Homo sapiens: one gene and its partner. The protein of the gene in region 1 purifies or fractionates together with the protein of each later gene. This does not show direct contact. Each region holds a gene or a part of one and is shown on either strand. Other genes may lie near its edges.

Evidence for each region. Proteins that work in one complex are often made in the same cells at the same time.
Region 2: the proteins of CD1E (region 1) and PLXNA2 purify together in Homo sapiens (affinity purification with mass spectrometry; 2 studies listed by BioGRID and IntAct, with this or other methods). This does not show direct contact.

Annotation. Positions count from the first base shown.
Region 1 is NC_000001.11:158,350,976-158,356,893, reverse strand, and holds the start of CD1E (T-cell surface glycoprotein CD1e, membrane-associated isoform a precursor), read right to left. Parts: upstream 3,001-5,918; 5' UTR 2,906-3,000; coding exon 2,848-2,905; intron 2,518-2,847; coding exon 2,221-2,517; intron 1,595-2,220; coding exon 1,325-1,594; intron 1,068-1,324; coding exon 789-1,067; intron 397-788; coding exon 303-396; intron 167-302; coding exon 1-166. UniProt on the Homo sapiens protein: T-cell surface glycoprotein CD1e, soluble binds diacetylated lipids, including phosphatidyl inositides and diacylated sulfoglycolipids, and is required for the presentation of glycolipid antigens on the cell surface. The membrane-associated form is not active.
Region 2 is NC_000001.11:208,213,385-208,216,884, forward strand, and holds part of PLXNA2 (plexin-A2 precursor), read right to left. Parts: coding exon 3,351-3,500; intron 3,335-3,350; exon of another isoform or gene 3,251-3,334; intron 1-3,250. UniProt on the Homo sapiens protein: Coreceptor for SEMA3A and SEMA6A. Necessary for signaling by SEMA6A and class 3 semaphorins and subsequent remodeling of the cytoskeleton. Plays a role in axon guidance, invasive growth and cell migration.

The sequences.
Region 1 (5,918 bases):
CCAGAGTTGGTTTAGGCGTGTCTTCCACTTCTTCAATACTCTGTTTTTGATCCACGATACTTGTGCCAAGCAGAACTGATGTCTTGAATTCTTGGTGTCCTGAGTGTTGGCTCCCATGAGAAAGACAGGGCTGGGTGTGTGGGGAGAAAGAATGTTCTTATTTGAACTGTGGGAAAAGAGGAGGATATTAATCTCAAAGAAAGGAAATAAAGGGGAAAGGCAGAGAAAAAAAAAAAGAAGATAGAGGAAAAAGGAATGAATTGATTACAGGCTGAAGAAACAAAGAACAAGAAAAAGCTCACCTCTGTTTTTTTAACCGTGAGTCAACTACAACCAATATGACCAGGGTAACTATCACAGTCAAACAGATCAGGATGAGAAAGATGGAATATCCACCTGGTTGGGGATAGAATAAGAATACCAACCCTAAAATACTCTATTCCACCAAGCTGAGATTTCCCATTTCACAAGGGTGGGACCTTCCTAGAATTTTCATCTGGGTTTTCCAAAGCCCTCATTTCAATTCCTCCTGATCCTTTGTCTGTGATCTCCTCCCAACCCTCTCCCACTAAATCACTAGTTCCTCCTCCTTTTTCTGTTAGTATGTCTAATTCTCTACTTCCATTTTCTTAAAATTTAACTACTGTCATACTCTATCCTTCTTTATTTTGATTGTCCCAGTTTTACCCTTCTTGTACCTAGCATTCCTACCCATTTCCTCAGCCCCACACTCAAAAGCCCCAGGGCTATTTTCATTATTTCCCAGCAGAGCCTCAGCTGTTTCTCACCCCAATGGATGATTAGATCATGGCCCCCTAGACTGCTGTGTTTCACCCGACAGGACAGGCCAGCTGCCTCCCCAGCCGCCACATCCAGGGTTGCTCGGAGATACCATGTCTCGTCAGCATTAGGCAGGACGTCCCCTCGCTGAGTGCCCCGCTGCTCCTGCTCACCCCGCATCCACATCACCCACACGGGCTTTGGGTAGAATCCTGAGACATGGCACACAAGCTGCAGACGGCCAGGGCCAGGACTGGGGCCACAGGACAGCCAGGCCTCTGGCTTCACTAGGAAGAAGAAGATAGAAAAAAAATGGAATTTTGAAGGGCACCCCAGGCCAGAGCTCAGAGACTCAGGTGCCTTTGTAATAATACTAAGAGTGATTTAGTAATCACTTCTTTCTCTTGTCTAAGAAACAGTCCTGAACCCACACATCTCATTCTCTAGTCTCTCACTATGTCTTTCAAAATGATGATGAGAGGCAAATTCAAATATGAGAGTTATAGTACTAGGAACAAGAGGGGAGAGAGAGAGTTGGGCTCACCTTTCCGTTTCAGTTCTGACTCCCCTGCTTCCATGAGCCCCGCTAGAAATCGAGGGCAGGTGTGACCAAGAAGGCTTTGCAGTATTTCCTTAATATCTAGGTAGCGATTGAGCACTTTACAGATGTTCTGGGCCCGGATCCCTGCTCCTGGAGATGGCTCCCAGGAAATTCCTTGGAAACTCAGGAAATCTGACCCTTGATATGCCATATTTAAGAAGATTTGTGGGGCATTCATTCTACAGCCAGCTAATATCTGGATCTCGAAGGGGTCTGAGAGTGGACAGGGAAGAGAGATCATTATGGAAAGAATGACAAGGAAGAAAAACAAACAATTTAGACAGTAAAGAGATTCAAGGGAAGAAAAATTTGCTGGGAAATCATATGGAGACTAGAGTTTACTGGCAAAGGGGAAGAAAATTTGTGGGAAGAAAATTTGAAGATAATAAAGATACTTTGAAATAACTAATGGGAAAGTGGTAGATGGGAAGGCTATCAGGAAGATAGGAGATTGGTCATAAATAATTCACGTGAAAGTGGTTAGGTACAGGCCAGTCCATGTCAACACTCAGGCAAAGGATAAAGAAGGGCAGAAAGAGGGTTGAGAAAGGCTGAGTCTGAGGGCAGGAATGAGGGGCAGAAGATCCAGAGGAGACAATCATTCCAAAGAGCCAGACATGAAGCTATATTCATGTTGAGATATGTACATGCAGGCCCTTTTGTGTATATGGTGGAGTGTGGGTGGTGGTGAAGGGTGAAGCAGAGGAGGGAGTGGGAGTCAGAGAGTGGGGAACAAGGTTAGTAAGGTTAAATGATGGTCAGAGTCTATATACTATCTTCCACTTTGGAAAATAGTTGGTGTTCCCAGGCAAATTATCAGCTTAGAGCAACGAACTTACATTCAAGCTGAAATTGACCAGCAGAAGCTTGCACTATCTGGATAAAACTATGGAAGTATAACTGGAACAGTGACTGTAAGTTTTTCAGCTCCTGCTTGCTGAAGTTTCCATGGGACCAGGGCTTCAGAAAGCGGATGGTGCCCAAGACAGTGTCCCAGCCATGAGTCTGCAGGTCACCCAGCCATCCTGAGCCCTCACTGTGTGCCCAGCTGTGGTTGGCAAAGGAGGAAGTTTGGAGCATGCGGAAGGACAGCTGCTCCTCTGCTGCTAGATGATAGGATTGTAGAGCCTGGGGAGCTGAGAGAGAGGGAAATGACAAGTAGAGAGAATGTAAAGGGATGGGAAAAGTGATGCCAAAGGGAAAAAAGGAACCCAGAGATGAGAGACAGTTAGGTAGCTTGTACATACTCCAATACCCTTTTCCTGTGGGGCCAGCTTCCTTTCTCCAAAATCAGAGACAAAAACTGAGACTGAGAGCAAGAATTCTCTGCCTGGAACTAGCCTGAAAGGCATATTCCAAGGGCATCCTAGAAGAGTACTGCTCCCTTCCCCCAGGACCTCCCCAGAGCTTCCTCTCAGCCCTCTGGTGCCCTACCATAGGTATCTTTCCACCTGCACTCTTCTTACCTGCTGTATTTTCCCCAGGACAGCAGAGACCCTCGAAGAGGAGGAACAGGAGCAGCATTGAAGCTCTGTTAAAGGAGGGATTCCTTGGCAGGACACCTGCCCTAATAATTCAGATATCAGTACCCCTCTCCACACCCTCTTGCACTCTCGTCTGACTTCCCTTGCTGTACAGACAGACAAACCTCTCCCTCTGCTGACTTCCCTGTCAGAGAAGCCACACTGCCTCGCTTTGCTGCAGCCTCCCACGGGGTTTTTCATTTCCCCTCTGCCTCTCTCACTGTCTGGCTCCAGATTTTCTCCCTGCTCTTGTGTACATCCTCCCAACCTCCCTAATTGCACTAACTGCTGGAAAACGAGTCCTGGCTTAAAACAAAGTCTGTGGTCTGGCTAGAAGATGGAGTAGCTTTTGGCCTTGTAGAAATCAAATCCATACTTGGCTTGTCAATAATCTAATCTGTGAGAAGTGATGGTAGTCACTCAGTGGTGCCTAGTGACCTATCCACCAGTCTCCCACTTCTACCTCTCTGTGATCCTCTCCTCCGCCTGTATCTCTTCACTCTGCTCTTGATCATGATCAGAAGACACTCAGCATCCTGGATGTAGCTGCATAATAAGCAGGCAACCCTCCATAATCCAACTCTCTGTGCTGCTGAAAAAGGAGCAGCAATGGCAATGCAGATTATCAGAAAATCTAAAGAAAGCTCCTTTTTTTCAGTTTCCCCAGTCAAGCCAACTGTCACTGTTAAAGTGGTCCATGAGTGGGCTTGACCTGGAAGTGGTGAGCTAGAGGGCAGGTAGATTTCACCCATGTTTTACAGGTGGCTCTGGAGGAAATACATAGGGGACTTGGATCCCCATCTCTACCCAAACGAAGAAAGCATGTCTGGAAGTCTGTGGGCCAGCTTTGCCCTGGGTATGAAGAAAGACTGAGGGCAGGCATGAAGCTCCTCATTAGTTCATGGCCTGAGAGCATTGGAGTCCCCTTGCTTGCGTTCGGTTAGAGAGCAGTTTGGGTGGACACAGGGAAGTACCTTTAGAGGACTGAAGTGTTCACTGGAGAATTAATTGAGTCTTTATTTTTGTTTCTTTTTCATTGATATTTGTTGTGACACTCTGAAGGCAGTTGAAATAACATTCCTTTGTTTGGTTTTTATATATTTGTTCAACTGACATTTATTCAGAGCCCACCTATGACCAAAAACAATTGCCAGGCCCTAAGATATCAGAGATAGACATCTTTGGGAAAAAATAAAACAAAATTCAACCCCAAACCTCTACTTTTCTTATACAGTAAATTTACTGAACGGTGGTCAGAATTATTGAAAAAGGTCCAAACCTAGTTTCATCTTATTATCATTTCTAAATTCTAAGTTAAAAGAAAGATAAAAAGTTTCCTTGTTTCCTGAGTAGAATATCTACATTTATTTTCAATACTCTTTCTGTGCTGGAGAGGTGCTGGAGAGGATGTGGAGAAATAGGAACACTTTTACACTGTTGGTGGGACTGTAAACTAGTTCAACCATTGTGGAAGTCAGGGTGGCGATTCCTCAGGGATCTAGAACTAGAAATACCATTTGACCCAGCCATCCCATTACTGGGTATATACACAAAGGATTATAAATCATGTTGCTATAAAGACACATGCACACGTATGTTTATTGTGGCACTATTCACAATAACAAAGACTTGGAACCAACCCAAATGTCCAACAATGATAGACTGGATTAAGAAAATGTGGCACATATACACCATGAAATACTATGCAGCCATAAAAAATGATGAGTTCATGTCCTTTGTAGGGACATGGATGAAGCTGGAAACCATCATTCTCAGCAAACTATCACAAGGACAAAAAACCAAACACCGCATGTTCTCACTCATAGGTGGGAATTGAACAATGAGAACACATGGACACAGGAAGAGGAACATCACACACCGGGGCCTGTTGTGGGGTGGGGGGAGGGGGGAGGGATAGCATTAAGAGATATACCTAATGTAAATGACGAGTTAATGGGTGCAGCACACCAACACGACACATGTATACATATGTAACAAACCTTCACGTTGTGCACATGTACCCTAGAACTTAAAGTATAATAATAAAAAATAAATAAATAAATAAAAATAATTAAAAAAAGAAAAAAAAACTGCAAACAAAAAAACAAAAGAAAAAGGTCCAAACCTAGTTTCATCTTATTATCATTTCTAAATTCTAAGGTTAAAGAAAGATTAAAAAAAGTTTCCTTGTTTCCTGAGTAGAATGTCTACATTTATTTTCAATACTCTTTCTTTTCTACAAATACATTCAAAGCTATAAGTTGCTATGTAAATCTATCTATAAATCGCTATGTAAATCCAAAATTGGTTTCATAATAAAATTATGAACAGTAAACAAAGATAAATATTCAAGAGAATATATAATAACCTACAAAAACAATAATACATAATAAAAAGATTGGAATGACCTATGCCAAACATCAATACTACAAGTAACTGTATTCCTTAGAATTTTTGTTTTGTTTTGTTTTTTCCTGAGACGGAGTCTTGCTGTCTTGCTCTGTTGCCCAGGCTGCAGTGCAGCCACAGGATCTCGGCTCATTGCAACCCCCGAATCCCTGGTTCAAACGACTCTCCTGCCTCAGCCTCCTGAGCAGCTGGGATTACAGGCAAGAGCCACCATGACCATCTATTTTTTGTATTTTTAGTAGAGACAGGGTTTCTTCATGTTGACCAAGACGGTCTCGATCTCCTGACCTCGTGATCCACCCGCCTCGGCCTCCCAAAGTGCTGAGATTACAGGCGTGAGCAACCGTGCCCCGGCCATTAGAATTTTTGAATCAGGCCAGGCACGGTGGCTCACACCCGTAATCCCAGCACTTTGGGAAGCCAAGGCAGGCGAATTCGAGACCAGCCTTGCCAACATGGCGAAACCCTGTCTCTACCAAAAAAAGTAAAAATTAGCCAGGTGCCATGATGTGTGCCTGTAATTCCAGCTACTCAGGAGGCTGAGGCAGGAGAATTGCTTGAGCCTAGGAGGTGGAGATTGCAGGGAACTGAGATTGTGCCACTGT
Region 2 (3,500 bases), about 50 Mb from region 1:
AAATCCCCGCTTTATCACTTATAGCTGTGGAGATCTGAGCAACTTACTTAGTCTTTGTGAGCCTTTGTTTTTTAATCTGTAAAATGGGGAAGATAACTCTTGCTTTATGGGGTCATTGTGAGGAGCAAGTGAGATAACACTTAAATTGCCAAGCTTAGCCTTTAGGACTAGCTGCTATTCAATGAGTGATAGCCCCCTTCTTCCTCTCTTTTCTGGGATCAGAGCTCAAATTTTTGATCTGAGATTTCCATGTTATTCCAGAGTCATGTTAAAATCAAGCTCTGGGACCACAGCTTCTTTCATTTATCCTTATTCCCCTCTAAGGCCACCAAAATATTTCTGGGTCCCTGGGTCTTAGTTCTTTGGAGTATCAGGGTCTTTAAGGGGCCATTCCTCTTGCAGCCCTTGCACCAGAAGGGTGTGGTGCTGAAGGGGTGGAGGCAAGGGGCTCTCCACTCTAAGGTCCTGGCCCCACTCACTGTCACCTCTCTCCCAGTGCCTTTGCTATCCTTTTGTAACTAGCCCAGGCTTGTCCCTCTGCTCTGGAGCAGAGAAGAGTGTCATCTTCCTCTTTCCTCTGGCTCAGAAGCAGGCAGGAATCAGCAGTTTCCTCCTGACAAGGCCCCCTCTGGGTTATGGGAACTAGGCTGGACTCTGCAAGCATTTAACCCTTACGGAGGGTTACATTTCCTCTCCACCTCTCCACATTGGTTACGGCCAGTGGCCATAAAATTTTGGCGTTAAAAAAAAAAAAACCAAAGACTATCTAGTCTAGCTTCCTCATTTTACAACAGTAAGATAACTAAGAAAATAGCTGGCTCTTTACTACTGTGATTAATATTAATAATCATAGCGGCCCATTTATTGAATGCTTATTATGTTCCAGGTATTGTGCTAAGCACTTTACATAAATTTTCCATTTGATCCTCATAATAACCATGAAAAGAAGACAATATTATCTCTATTTTAAAGACGAAAAATTTACAGCTCAGACCAGGTACATAACTTGCCCAAAGTCACACAAGGAGTAAGTGGTAGGACTGATTTTTAATCCCCATCTGGTTTACTTCAAAGCCTTAACCACGACTCTTCTACCACACCAAGCAAATGATGACAGGAATAGAAGCGTAGCCTTGGAATGATGTTTTCTTGCTTCAAGTACTGGTGCTTGGTCCCAACGGCAGGCACCTTCAATTTAGAGTACTCAGAAGGTAGCCGTATGGGCCCCTTGGTCTCATATATTTTTTTCTAGGTTGCAGATCCAGAGCCCTCAGCACTGTGTACAAGAAACCTACTTTTGCACTTCTCACACTCCCTGTTAACTCCCTGTGTAATAATAAACCTAACATTTCCAGGCATGGTGCTAATCTCTCCATGTATTATCTCATCTGATCATCCCATGAGCTAGGCATTATTATTTCCATCTCACAGATAAGAATGTAGAGATGCTAAGGTGCTTCTGAAGAAGGCAGGAAGAAACACAGATGGAATTTGAAGCCTGGCTTTTGTCTCAGAACCTCAAACTCTGAGCCACTACATTATGTTGCCAGCTGTCTCTAGCTCTCTCTCTCTTCCTCTCTCTCTCTCTCTTCCCCCTACTAGATTATAAGATCTGTGAGACTAGTGATCATGTCTTTTTTTTTTCTGAGACAGGGTCTCACTCTGTCACCCAGGCTGGAGTATAGTAGCACAATCTTGGCTCACTGCAACCTCCACCTCCCATGCTCAGGCCTCCAGAGTAGCTGGTACTACAGGTGTGCATCACCACACCCAGCTAATTTTTGGAATTTTTGTAGAGACGGAGTTTTGTCATGTTGCCCAGGCTGGTCTCGAACTCCTGAGCTCAAGCAATCTGCCTACCTTAGCCTGCCAAAGTGCTGGGAGTACAGGTGTGAGCCACCGCACCCAGCCGATCATGTCTTTTTATGTTTGCAACCCCAGTGCCTAGTACAGTGCCAGGCATTCAGAAGATCTTCAATACTACTTGTAAATGAATAGAGGGATGGGTAGATGGATGATGGTGGATGAATAAAGAGAGGGATGAATGGATAGATGGAGGGCTAGGTAGACAAATGGATGATGGATAGATAAAGATATGGAGACATAGATTAAGGGAGAAAAAAGAGGGATGAGTGGATAAAGAGATGGATGAAGGGATGGAGGAAGGGATGGAGGAAAGAATGAAGGGAAGGATCAGGGACAGATGAATGGAGGTTTAGGTAAATAGGTGAATAGATGGATGGATGGATGATGGATGGATGGATGGATGGAGAGATGCATGGAGGGAGAGAGCTAAGGAGGATGGAGGGATAGATGGATAGGAGAATAAAAGGAGGGAAGGAAAGGGGATGGATGAAAGGAGAGATGGGTGGATAAATGAATGGATGATTGGATGGTTGGATGAATGATGGAAGAAGAGTGGATCATGAATACTTTGATGGCAGCACCATGAGCCGCTGACAGGGCAGTGCTTGCCACTGATTTTCTTGTCTCTGCTTTCCTCAGGTCTGGATTCTGAGCTTTTCATCCTCTCCTCTTTTGCCTTTGCCCACACTCCTGATTCTTCTCCAGTTTTCCATCAGTTGGTCAAGCCAGACTCCCTTCCCTCTCCTCTGACTTAGATTTCTGATCTCCACTTGACCCCCTCACTGGGAACCACAGTGGCCTACAGCTCTGTGTGTACATGACCTGGTCCCCATTACTTCTGATGGACCCCATCACCTGCTGCTCTTTCTCTCACATACTCTGATCTGGCTGCAGTTGCCTCCTTACTGTTCCTCAGACACTCCAGGCATGCCCTGAATTCTTTGCACATTCTCCTCACCCTTTCTCTCTCTGGAATGCTTTCTCTGGACACTTGTGTGGCTCCCTTTCTTCCCATCCTCAGTTTTTGCTTAGACACCACTTTCTCAATGAGTCAGTCCTCTCAGCTACTGCCTCTCCCCCTTTCCTGTTTATTTTTCTCTATAGCCATTATCACCATTTGGCAAACTAACATGTATTATGTGTTCATTTGTCTCACCCAACTAGCGTGTAATCTCCATGAGGGCAGTGAGCTTTGTAGGGTTGTATGGTTCACAGCTGAAGCCTGCAGCATTTACAATAGCACCTGATGTGATGTAGGCACTCAATACATATATTTGAAATGACAACAAATCAACACACATATCTCAAGTATCTGGTGTACGTAAGACCCTGCGTTATTGGTTACCACCTGATAACCTGAGTCTGAAAACCTCTTTCATTTCAGGTCCATGGTGGTGTGGGAGCAGATGTGCCCCAGGGCATGGACAGGAAGGTTGGAACCTGTGTCATGGAGCAGGAGCAGAGCGAGGTGTGTGCCTCCTTACCGCCTTGGTGCACTGGACGTCCTTCCCCAGCAGCCAGTTGAGCTCCAGGTTGCCCTCGCCCTGGTAGCAGGACTGCAGGCGCTCCTTGATCTGCAAGTTGATGGCCCGGATAGGGAAGGCACACAGGGCAGAGTCATCGGGCGGGTGGTG